Linked DNA regions of Homo sapiens: region 2 is linked to region 1. Evidence: fine-mapped expression QTL. A gene starts in region 1. The other region holds a variant in brackets. All regions are shown on one strand. Distances are from middle to middle. Region 1 holds the start of DENND2A (DENN domain containing 2A). Region 2 overlaps DENND2A (DENN domain containing 2A).

Region 1 (5,370 bases):
GTCTCAAAAAAAAAAAAAAAAAAAAATTAGGCCAGGTGCGGTGGCTCACACCTGTAATCCGAGCACTTTGGGAGGCCAAGGCGGGTGGATCATGAGGTCAGGAGTTTTTAAGACTAGCCTGGCCAAGATGGTGAAACCCTGTCACTACTAAAAATACAAAAAAATTAGCCGAGCGTGGCGCGGTGGCAGGCGCCTGTAATCCCAGCTACTCAGGAGGCTTAGGCAAAAGAATCGCTTGAACCCAGGAGGCAAAGGTTGCAAGCCAAGATTGCACCAGTTTGCTTTCTTATATGTTGTAGCAGCCCTGGGAATAATTAACCCTCAAGAAGCCAAGTCTTGGCCAGGCGTGGTGGCTCACATCTATAATCCCAACACTTTGGGAGGCCAAGTCAGGAGGATCACTTGAGGCCAGGAGTTCAAGATTAGCCTGGGCAACATAGCAAGACCTACAAAAAATAAAAAAGCCGACCATGATAGCATACATCTGTAGTCCTAGCTAATTGGGAGGCTGAGGTGGGGAAATTGCTTGAGCCCAGGAGTTCGAGGCTGAAGTGAGCTATGATAGCAACACTGCACTCCACCGCGGGTGAGAGACTGAGACTGCCTCAATCAATCAATCAATAAAAAAGAAGCCAAGCCTGGGAGGCTGAGGCAGGTGAATGGCGTGAACCCAGGAGGCGGAGCTTGCAGTGAGCCGAAATCGCTCCACTGCACTCCAGCCTGGGCGACAGAGCGAGACTCCGTCTCAAAAAAAAAAAAAAAAAAAAGCCAAGCCTCTGATCTTTATTTAGAAAGTGAAAAACTTACTGAATAATGCTTCAACAAACAAAACAATAATTTAAATGCTTACACTTTAAAAAAAAAGCTTGCACTTTGCAAATGTGGGCTCTAAAAGTTGACTATGCTTAGTTAAAATGGGTATGTCATGAGGAGTTTAAGGAACTTAAGCCCTAGAAAAGCTTCAAAGAGTTCCCAGAAAGCATAAAACCCTCAGCTGAGAAGAAAACAGAGATTTTTTTCCTGTGACTTTGAACAAGTCCCTCAAATCTCAAGCTCCCAGTCTATAGGCACTGCCTGGGCAGTATTACGTCATTACACCCATCTTTTATTTTTCACTGTCTCCCTCCTGCCTTTCTCTCGCGCGCACACTCCTTCTGTGGATTTGTGAGGCTAAGCCTCTCTTCTCTCTTCCCCCTTGCTTGAACTTTAGGCCTCTTTGCTGTCCCGCAGGACCATGGCTCCCAGCCCTTCTGAGCTAAAGATGAGGATGACCTTCCTCTGGTGTGGAGATGGACCTGAAGCCTGCTCCCACCGCGCGCAAATCACCCCGCCAGACCCCCCTCACTCTCATCAGGGCATTCCTCTGCTCAAAAACTTTCCGTCCCCCGCTTGAAATCTGGCTAAGCCTACCCATCAGACCTGATTCACCACTTGGTCCTCACTCGGCTGTTTCTGAAATGCCTAGCCTCTGCTTCCGGCCTCCACTGGTGCTGTTCCCTTCACTCAGAACCCTTTCCTTTCACCCACTTTCCTCCACCTATGCAAATGCTATTCAATGTTCCCGGCCCGGTCAAAGCTCCAGGGAACTTCCTCGAAGGCCCCAGCCTGTATTCCAGACCCGCCTTCCCCGCAGCCCACGGCATTTCCCTGCGGACTTCTGCTGTGCAGCCTGTGTTCCTTGACGGTGTCCTGCGTGAGTGGGGGCAGCGGGTCTATGAAGTCACTTCTCCTCTTGGAAGCTTTTCCTGACCACCTCCCTTCCCGCCCGGTCTGGGAGCCCTTCTGCAGCGCGCTCGGCCCTGGGCCCTCCCCGGCCCCCATCACCTGCATCGCCGGTCTCATGACTGTCATTACCCCGGCCCGACGGCAAGCTGCCTGGGGCAAGGGTGGTGCCTGACTCACTGCCCGAGGTGCCCCCGGCCCCGGCCCGGTGCCGAGAGTGTGTTAACTGCCTAGAGTAAGCGGGGCCGGGCACGCGGCCGCCGTTCCCCAGGCTTGGACGTCCAGGTCTAAGCCTCAGGCCGGAAGCACCTCGCGAATCCGCCCGGGCCTGGGTGGAATGGAGCCCGCGCGCGGCGGGCGTCCTCCCAGGAAGGGTTAAGCCACCTCTCCCCCACCCCGAGAGGCGAGGGGGCGAGTCCGGCAGAAGGTCCTGTTTACCGCAGCTCCGCGCGGGGCCGGGCCCTGGGAGAGGGGTTGCCGTGGCAACCGGCCGGGCGCCCGCCAGCTGCGGATTAGCTCACTGGGCCGGGCGGGATGGGTCGGGAGGAGGGGGCGCGCGTCGCGCAGATCGTCGCGGAGCCACGGCAGGAGGAGGCAGGGGCCGCGGGCGAGCCTGCGCTGGGCCGGCCGAGGGAAGCGCGCCGCTGGGGCCGGGGGCGGCGGGGACCCCACGGGAGCGCGCGCGGCGGGGACCCCCAGGGGCTTGCGGGCGGCCGGGGGAGGCTCGGCGGACAAAGGGGCGGAGGGCGGAGGGCCATGGCGTCCCCGGCACCCGCCGCCGCCCGCCCCCGAGCCGCGCCGCCAGCCGTCCCGGCCCGCCCCGGAGCCCCCAAGATGCGCCCCAGAGCCCGCGGAGCCGCCGCCCGCGGGGAGGTAGGGCCGGGCCGGGCCAGGGGGTGCAGGGTCGAGCTGGGGAGGGAAAGGGGACGGAGGAGGGGACGCGCGGGGGAGGGAGGAAACGGCTCGCGCGGCCTGAGCCCTGACGGGGGAAGCGGCTCTGCAGACGGGAGTCTGAGTTCCCGCCTGGTCCCGGGACTGTGCAGAGCGCGATCCAGGCGTTCCTCCCGGGCTCGGGCTGACTCCCAGGACTGAGCCCGGACGCCGCCGTCTCGCGCCTCGGGGACCTGCAGAAAGCCGGTAGACCCCCGCCCTGCGCCGTGCTGGGTCCCTCGGGGCGCGAGTGTGAGTGTGTGTGTGTCCGCGCGCGCGCGTGTGTGTGTGTGCGCGCTTGTGTGTCTGTGTGTGAGTGTGTCTGTGCGAGTGTGTGTGAGTGTGTGCGTGCGCGTGCAAGCGCGGGGCATCGAGGCGGCTGAGCAGCCGGGCCCCCCTCACAGCGGTCAGCATTTGCAGTCTTGGGAAAGCAAGAAGGTAAAGATGATTGAATGGTCTTACTTCTTCCACTTTGTCCCCAAGGGTGGAGTTGGGAGCAGATGGAGCCCAGGGGAAGTCTGGACACAATCGTATTAGGAGGGTCACAGAGAGCTGGGTGAGACCACGGAGTAGAGCCAGACCTCAGCCGTGGAATCTTGTCATGGGGGGCCTGGGACAGGAAGCAGGAAACTGGTCAGGGCTCTCCAGGGGCGTAAATTGGGCAAGGGAAGTGCAGTGACCCTGCCTTAACCAGCTGGTGCTGACTTCCAGCTGCTGTTCAGATGCGATTCAGGAATGTGACTTCCCCAAGGTTCCAAATGACATCGGACAGTAATGGGCTGGGGGTAACAGAGTTGTAATAGGCGTGCTACAGTAATCTTGTTAGTAAACTCTTAAACCCTCTGTGGTTACCACATAAAAGAAGAGAAAGAAATCCCTTCTCCTTACATCATCAAATATCAGATACCAAAAGAGTGGAGTAGAAAGTCTGGGTGGGCAGCGTGGGACGGAGCAGAACTCCGAGAGGAAGTATGTGTGAGTGTGCGAGTGTGTGTGTGTGTGTGTGTCAGAGACGGTTTCTGAGGCCTGGTAATGAAAAGGCTGGCGGGAGGCTGGCCTCCAGTCCTTTCGTTTGTTTTTTATTTTTATTTTTTTGAGACAGAGTCTTGCTCTGTCACCCTGGCTGGAGTGCGGTAGTGCAATCTCGACCCACTGCAACCTCAGCCCCCGGAGTTCAAGCAATTCTCCTGTCTCAGCTTCCCGAGTAGCTGGGATTACAGGCGCCCACCACCACACCCAGCTAATTTTTGTATTTTTAGTAGAGACGGGGTTTCACCATGTTGGCCAGGCTGGTCTTGAACTGCTGACCCCAGGTGATCTGCCCGCCTCGGCCTCGCAAAGTGCTGGGATTACAGGCTTGAGCCACTGTGCCTGGCCTCCAGTCCTTTCATTCTGGAAGATTAATAAAATCCTGTGTCATGTATTCTATTCATACCCTTACACAGCTCTGTGTGCTAGGCATGCGTGCTAGACATCAGTGGCACAGCGAGGAATGAGACGTCCCCCTTCCTTCCAGGAACACCATCCTAGCTGGGTAGTCAAACAAAAAAGTAAAACCAGTCCTGCCCAGCCTGGCTGTGAGGGCTGCATGGCATAGAACTAGGGCAGCCCAGAGAGGAGCCGGTGCAGGGAATCCCCACAGATTAGGTGATGCTTGGGCTAAGCCCTGAAAACCGCCTCACCAAGGAAACAGCAGGGAAGGTTGTTTCAGGCTGAAAGAACAGAATGTGCAAAGTCACCAAGAGAGTCTAGGAGAGGCCAGTGAGGGGAATTCAGTGTGGCTGCGGGTTGCAGTATGTGAGTGCATGCCGGGGAGAGGTGAGGCGGGAGCTGTCAGGGCAGAGGCACAGGGAAGGAAGGATCTGCCAGAAGGAGGCAGGAGTATGCACTGAAGCAGGAGTGATGCGCTCCTTCTAGTTGTTGGGTGGGGAGGCCTGGAGGAGGAGGAGGAGACCAAGGCTTTTTGCAACACCCAGGCCAGAATTACTGAGGAGCAGGAGAAACTGAAAGGATGCCAGGATCAAGAGGCAGGACCTGGTGACTGGTTTGGGCACAGATTATGATAACTTAGACTAAAAGCAAGTATGTACACAAATGCTCAGGAGAAAACAAAGCAAAGCAAAAGGAATGTGGACCTTCTGAGTGGCCTGCATTTAGCAGATTACAACACTTGGATAACGCATTTGGCTGTAAGTTTTCTGGCAGCTTAGGGACAAACAAAAATACACTGGGTTGCATAGTTTGGGATTTTGGACAACAGAAAGCCTACAAATTAATTCTCAGAACAAAATTTTTCCTGGAATTGAACTCAGCTGGGAATTTATCATGTGGAACTTTATGTAAAGACTGAAGAGTGACATAGAAAAAAAAAATCTTCGTTGCTGGTGTTACAAAAGATGGAAAGATAAAACTCCCCGTTACTGCCTTCCTCTACCATCCTGTTATGTCTAGGGGAGTGAACTGCACTTCTGTGAGGACTGGGTGTCATCTCAGAGTATGGGGCCAGGGAAATCCTATACAAAGGAGACAATGGTACCTTAAGTGCAGGAAGAGCTGACACCCATCTCTGTGAATGTAGAGAGCAAGGCGTCCGGGGTGCTCAACCATAAAGGGAAGGAGGCTTATCATAGTATAGCCCAGAGAGGGGTGGGCTGAGACTGTGGTCTGAGAAGGGGACAGGTAGGGCATAGCACGTTGGAAGGGCCAGCATCCAGGAAT
Region 2 (5,370 bases), 110 kb after region 1:
AGGAAGCTCTGTGCTGGATCCTTACTGCTTCATAGAGAGTTGGAAGCCAGCTGAGCATAGGAACACCAAGTATGGAGCAGAGGCTTGGTAGCAACCAGAACTAAAAAGTTGGCTCCAGGAAAACTTTGGCATTCCTTACAAGTGCGTCCTGATGTTCTGGAATACTGCTCCAACACTCAGGAACCACCACCCAACAGCAAAACATCCTTGGACCCAACCCTTCTCACCCATGCCCAACTTTTAACCCTGAGGCCCAGCCAACCTCCCACTGGGGCCTTCTCTTCCCTGCCCCACTTTTGTACAATTGATCACAGCTGTGAGTGCTGGCGTTTCTTTCCTCCACACCACTGTAATGCAAGCCAGCTGCGAGTGAGGACTCTCTTTCTATGTCTTCCTTCAAAAACACTGCCTCTTCTCTAGCCCCTCCACCTCCACACTCTGCAGCAAGCCCTCTTGACCAGTCATCCCTAGCATCCCCAGAACCACTGACTATTGGCATGTTCCTAAGGGACCACCAGTCCCAGGAGTGCCCACCTCCCATCCCCCTCCTTGAGGGCTCCTCGGGCCTTCACAAGTCAGGGAATAAAATTTTATTACCACTTGCATCAGGGATTGAGAGAAACAAGCTCCATCCAAAATAATCCTTTCCTGCTCTATCATTTATTTTGAGGAAAGGGCTGCCACTCATGGAATTATTCACAAAATTTGACCTTTCCTTTTAGTGTTTAGGGGCAGAATTGTTTTTAGAACATTGATGTGGGCTGGGCGTGGTGGCTCATGCCTGTAATCCCAGCACTTTGGGAGGCCAAGGTGGGCAGATCATGAGGTCAAGAGTTAGAGATAAGCCAGGCCAACATGGTGAAACCCCGTCTCTACTAAGAATACAAAAATTAGCTGGGCGTGGTGGCACGTGCCTGTAATCCCAGCAACTCGGGAGGCTGAGGCAGGAGAATCACTTGAACCCTGGAGGCAGAGGTTGCAGTGAGCCAAGATCGCACCATTGCACTCCAGCCTGGGTGCCAGAGCAAGACTCCATCTCAAAAAAAAAAAAAAAAAAAAATTAACCAGGCATTGGTGGCACGTGCCTGTGATCCCAGCTACTTGGGAGACTGAGGCAGGAGAATCGCTTGAACCCAGGAGGTGGAGGTTGCAATGAGCCAAGATCGTGCCACTGCACTCCAGTCTGGGCGACAGAGTGAGACTCCATCTAAAAAAAGAAAAAACGTTGACGAGGGCTACAGAGCAAGAGGAATAAGACCCTTCACCTGCCTGCTTGTTGCCGTATTGTCTCCAGCACCCTGTGCTCCATGGGCTCCAGCTAACGAGGTATTCATGATAACCAGGTACAGAAACGTTTGTTGCAGCCACAACAGTGGGATCAGACTACTCAAAACAAACTTACCACAGGAGATAGTCAACAAACGGGCAGCTCCTCCCACGCGGCCAGCTGGTTCCCCAGCCGAGTCGTCATCATTTCTCGCATCAAGCCTGAACACTGCTGTCCTGGAGCCCCATGCATCCAGTTCACTGAGTGAACTTTGGCTTCCTTTCTGTCACGTTTCTCCACCAGCCTCTGCATCTAGCACCGGCATTGCTGGTCATCTTTCCTGACCTTGCTCCCACGACCTTCTCCTCCAGATGGTTCACACTCACTGCAGCTGAACCAGGGCCTCCGGGTGTCCCAGGCCCTGGGGGCCTCTCTGTCACTGAAGGCAACATAGGGCTTTAGGAGTCACAAAGGGCTGTACAGCAAGGAGCCCCAAGGGGCTGTACAGCAAGGAGAAGGGAGCAGCCCCTTGTACTTCCTCCTTCTAGGAATGAGACCACAAGGAAGTAAAAATGGAGGTAGCCAGCCAGGTGCAGTGGCTCACGCCTGTAATCCCAGCACTTTGGGAGGCTGAATCGGGTGGATCATGAGGTCAAGAAATCGAGACCATCCTGGCCAACATGGTGAAATCCCGTCTCTACCAAAAATACAAAAAATTAGCCAGGCATGGTGGTGCACACCTGTAGTCCCAGCTGCTTGGGAGGCTGAGGCAGAAGAATTGCTTGAACCTGGGAGGCAGAGGTTGCAATGGGCAGAGATCGTGCCACCGCACTCCAGCCTGGCAACAGAGTGAGACACTGTCTCAAAAAAAAAAAAAAAAAAAGCAGGTAGCCTTTTCTTTGAGTTGGGAAAAAAAGTTAAACATGTTTTTGTTTTGTTTTTCTATTGCAATGATTGGGAAAAAAAACACACATAGGCTATCCTCCTTTTTATATACATTTAATTTTTTGTTTTAGAGATGAGGATCTAACTATGTTGCCCAGGCTGGACTTGAACTCCAGAGATCAAGAGATCCTCCCACCTCAGCCTCTGGGATTCAGTAGCTGGGACTACAGGCACATGCCACTGTGCCTGGATCGTAGGGTGCCTCCTCATGCCTGCATTCCTCTGAGCAGCAATCCTGCCTTCTCCAGTCTGCAGGACCCTTCTCTCCCTACTCTGCCCCATCCTACATTCAGAGTTACTTTAGCCTCATTTAGCCTCACTCTTCCTACCTTAAAAATCCAAAAGAAACTGAACTCAATCCCCAAGAACTCTTCCAGGTCTAAATTCTGTCATTCTGTAACTGTGAAGTCAAAAGTGCTTGAACCACAAGTCTGACGCGTAGAAGGAATCTTAAACACAAATACTGCATTTTTTCTTCTCCTTTAA[C/T]GGACTAAAGTCAGAGTTTCAAAGACTAGGGAAATGGACCATGGATCTTCTCATGAACCACTTCGTTTCCAAGTCACATTTAGGCACTTTGGCAAACGTGCTATAAAAAGAGACTGGTTTCATGCAAAATACCTTCATGCAGGGATTTCCTTCTTAAGGTCTCTTTTATTTTTTTGAGACGGAGTCTCACTCTGTTGCCCAGACTGGAGTGCAGCAGCGTGATCTTGACTCACAACAACTTCTGCCTCTCGGATTCAAGCGATTCTCCTGCCTCAGCCTCCCTCCCGAGTAGCTGGGACTACAGGCACCCGCCACCACATCTGGCTAATTTTTTTGTATTTTCAGTAGAGACAGGGTTTCACCATGTTGGCCAGGCTGATCTCGAACTCCTGACCTCAGGTGATCTACCTGCCTCAGCTTCCCAAAGTGCTGGGATTGCAGGAGTGAGCCACCGTGCCCAGCACCCACTCCCAGTCTTCTAGTCCAAATCACTGGCTTCAAGCCCTTTTCATTGCAGCCCACAATGAGAAGCACATCTTACAATCAGACCCAGGGTATGCCTTCCCACCCGCCCCCACCACACACACAGATAGTTGTTTTGTTGTTGTTGTTGTTGTTGTTTTCCTTTGAGACAGAGTTTCGCGTTTGTTGCCCAGCCTGGGGTGCAATGGCGTATTCTCGGCTCACTGCAACCTCCGTCTCCTGGGTTCAAGCGATTCTCCTGCCTCAGCCTCCTGAGTAGCTGGGATTACAGGCACACGCCACCATGCCCGACTCGTTTTTTGTTTTTGTATTTTTTGTATTTTTAGTAGAGACGGGGTTTCTCCATGTTGGTCAGTATAGCCTTGAACTCCTGACCTCAGGTGATCCACCCGCCTCAGCCTCCCAAAGTGCTAGGATTACAGGCACGAGCCACCGCACCCGGCTCACACACAGATAGTTATTTACAGCTGGGAAACGTGCAGCACACTCTCTTATTTTCTATTCTGTTCTTTTTGTTCTTGTTTTTAATGCTGATCGCAACCCTCTAAAATGATTTCAAGACCCACTAATGGGCTGCAAACTATAGTCTGAAAAATCTTGCTCTAGAAACAACTATCCTCACTTGTATGTGAATGTTCTGATTTTCTAAGTCCTGACTTTACAACCATAGCACACGAGCATAGCAACTTTGTAGCCTGGCTCCACGCATCAACATAGATTAGTCCTAAAATAAAAAAATAAACAATTTAGAACAAAGTGAATTCAGTACATTCAGTGGTTTATAGATCAAGGAACTAAAACATAAATGGTGAGGAATTAACTAAAGCATTAACATTCTTGAATATTTGAGAGGAAGTGATGCCTTAGGGAAAGGTATCTCTGCTTTGACAGAAGATGTAGATCTAGATCCTTCGAAAGTCATAGAAGTCGGCCGGATGTGGTGGCTCACGCCTGTAATCCCAGCACTTTGGGAGGCCAAGGTGAACAGATCACCTGAGGTCAGGAGTTCGAGACCAGCCTGACCAACGTGGTGAAACCCTGTGTCTACCAAAAATACAAAAATTAGCCAGGCATGGTGGCGCATGCCTGTTAATCTCAGCTACACTGGAGGCTGAGGCAGGAGAATCACTTGAACACGGGAGGTGGAGGTTGCAGTGAGCTGAGATCATGCCACTGTACTCCAGCCTGGGAGACAGAGTGAAATTCTGTCTCAAAAAAAAAAAGAAAGACACAGAAGTCACTTCACCCTAAGCTCTGGCTGGATTCTGGATAGTATTCTCCTTAATATAAGTCCTAACTTCATTATTCTCTCACTCTTTTTTTTTTCTTGGTATCTTCCAAATGCAATGTGTTACTCTTACCCAGCTAATAAAGAAGACAGTGTAGGGATAAGAATGAAATCTTGGGGTAGCGTTTTTCTCATCTTGGGGGTGATCATTTGAAAGAAAAGATAAGGACCGAATATCAGTGCGATGCATGGATGCCATGCTGCTATTTCCTGACTCCAGTGAGTATCAGGAGAACGATTATTTGCAAAGACAGAGAACAGGAAGGTTAAGAGACAGTGGGATAAATGAACAAGATTCAATAGTACCATTATTAGTCCAGGGGCCCCCAAATTGGGGAATGGAAAAGAAGGCTATGTGTACATATATTTTTTAATTTTAATTATTTTTAATTGTCATATAAAGATGGCATATATTTATCATGTACAACAATGATGATTTTGTTGTTGTTGAGACAGGGTCTCCCTCTGTCATCCATGCTGGAGTGCAGTGACACGATCACGGCTCACTGCAGCCTCAACCTTCCAGGTTCAAGTAATCTTCACACTTCAGCTTCCTGAGTAGCTGGGACCACAGGCACATGTCACCACCAAAGGCTATTTTTTTTTTTTTTTTGAGAAACAGGGCCCCACCATGTTGCCCAGGTTGGTCTCAATCTCTTGGGCTCAACTGGAACATAATATTTTAATACACACATATATCTTGTTGTTGTTGTTGTTTTGTTTTGTTTTATTATACTTTTAAGTTTTAGGGTACATGTGCACAGCGTGCAGGTCTGTTACATACGTATACATGTGCCATGTTGGTGTGCTGCACCCATTAACTCGTCATTTACATTGGGTATATCTCCTAATGCTATCCCTCCCCCGTCCCCCTACCCCACAACAGGCCCCGGTGTGTGAT

Evidence for each region. PIP is the estimated chance that this variant, and not a neighbour inherited with it, causes the effect.
Region 2: its variant is fine-mapped to the expression of DENND2A in esophagus muscle (GTEx, PIP above 0.99).

Annotation. Positions count from the first base shown.
Region 1 is chr7:140,637,729-140,643,098 of GRCh38, reverse strand. It overlaps DENND2A (DENN domain containing 2A), which reads left to right and starts at 2,286. Exons shown (of 20, transcript NM_015689.5): 1 at 2,286-2,595. It overlaps LOC105375535 (a long non-coding RNA gene), which reads right to left and starts at 2,190. Exons shown (of 6, transcript XR_928047.3): 1 at 1,825-2,190. RefSeq lists a silencer at 2,096-2,390.
Region 2 is chr7:140,529,772-140,535,141 of GRCh38, reverse strand. All of the region lies in intron 14 of DENND2A (DENN domain containing 2A), which reads left to right. Among named protein-coding and RNA genes, the nearest start is that of MKRN1, 53 kb to the right of the region's middle. The variant C/T (reference allele first, on the strand shown) is at 2,699.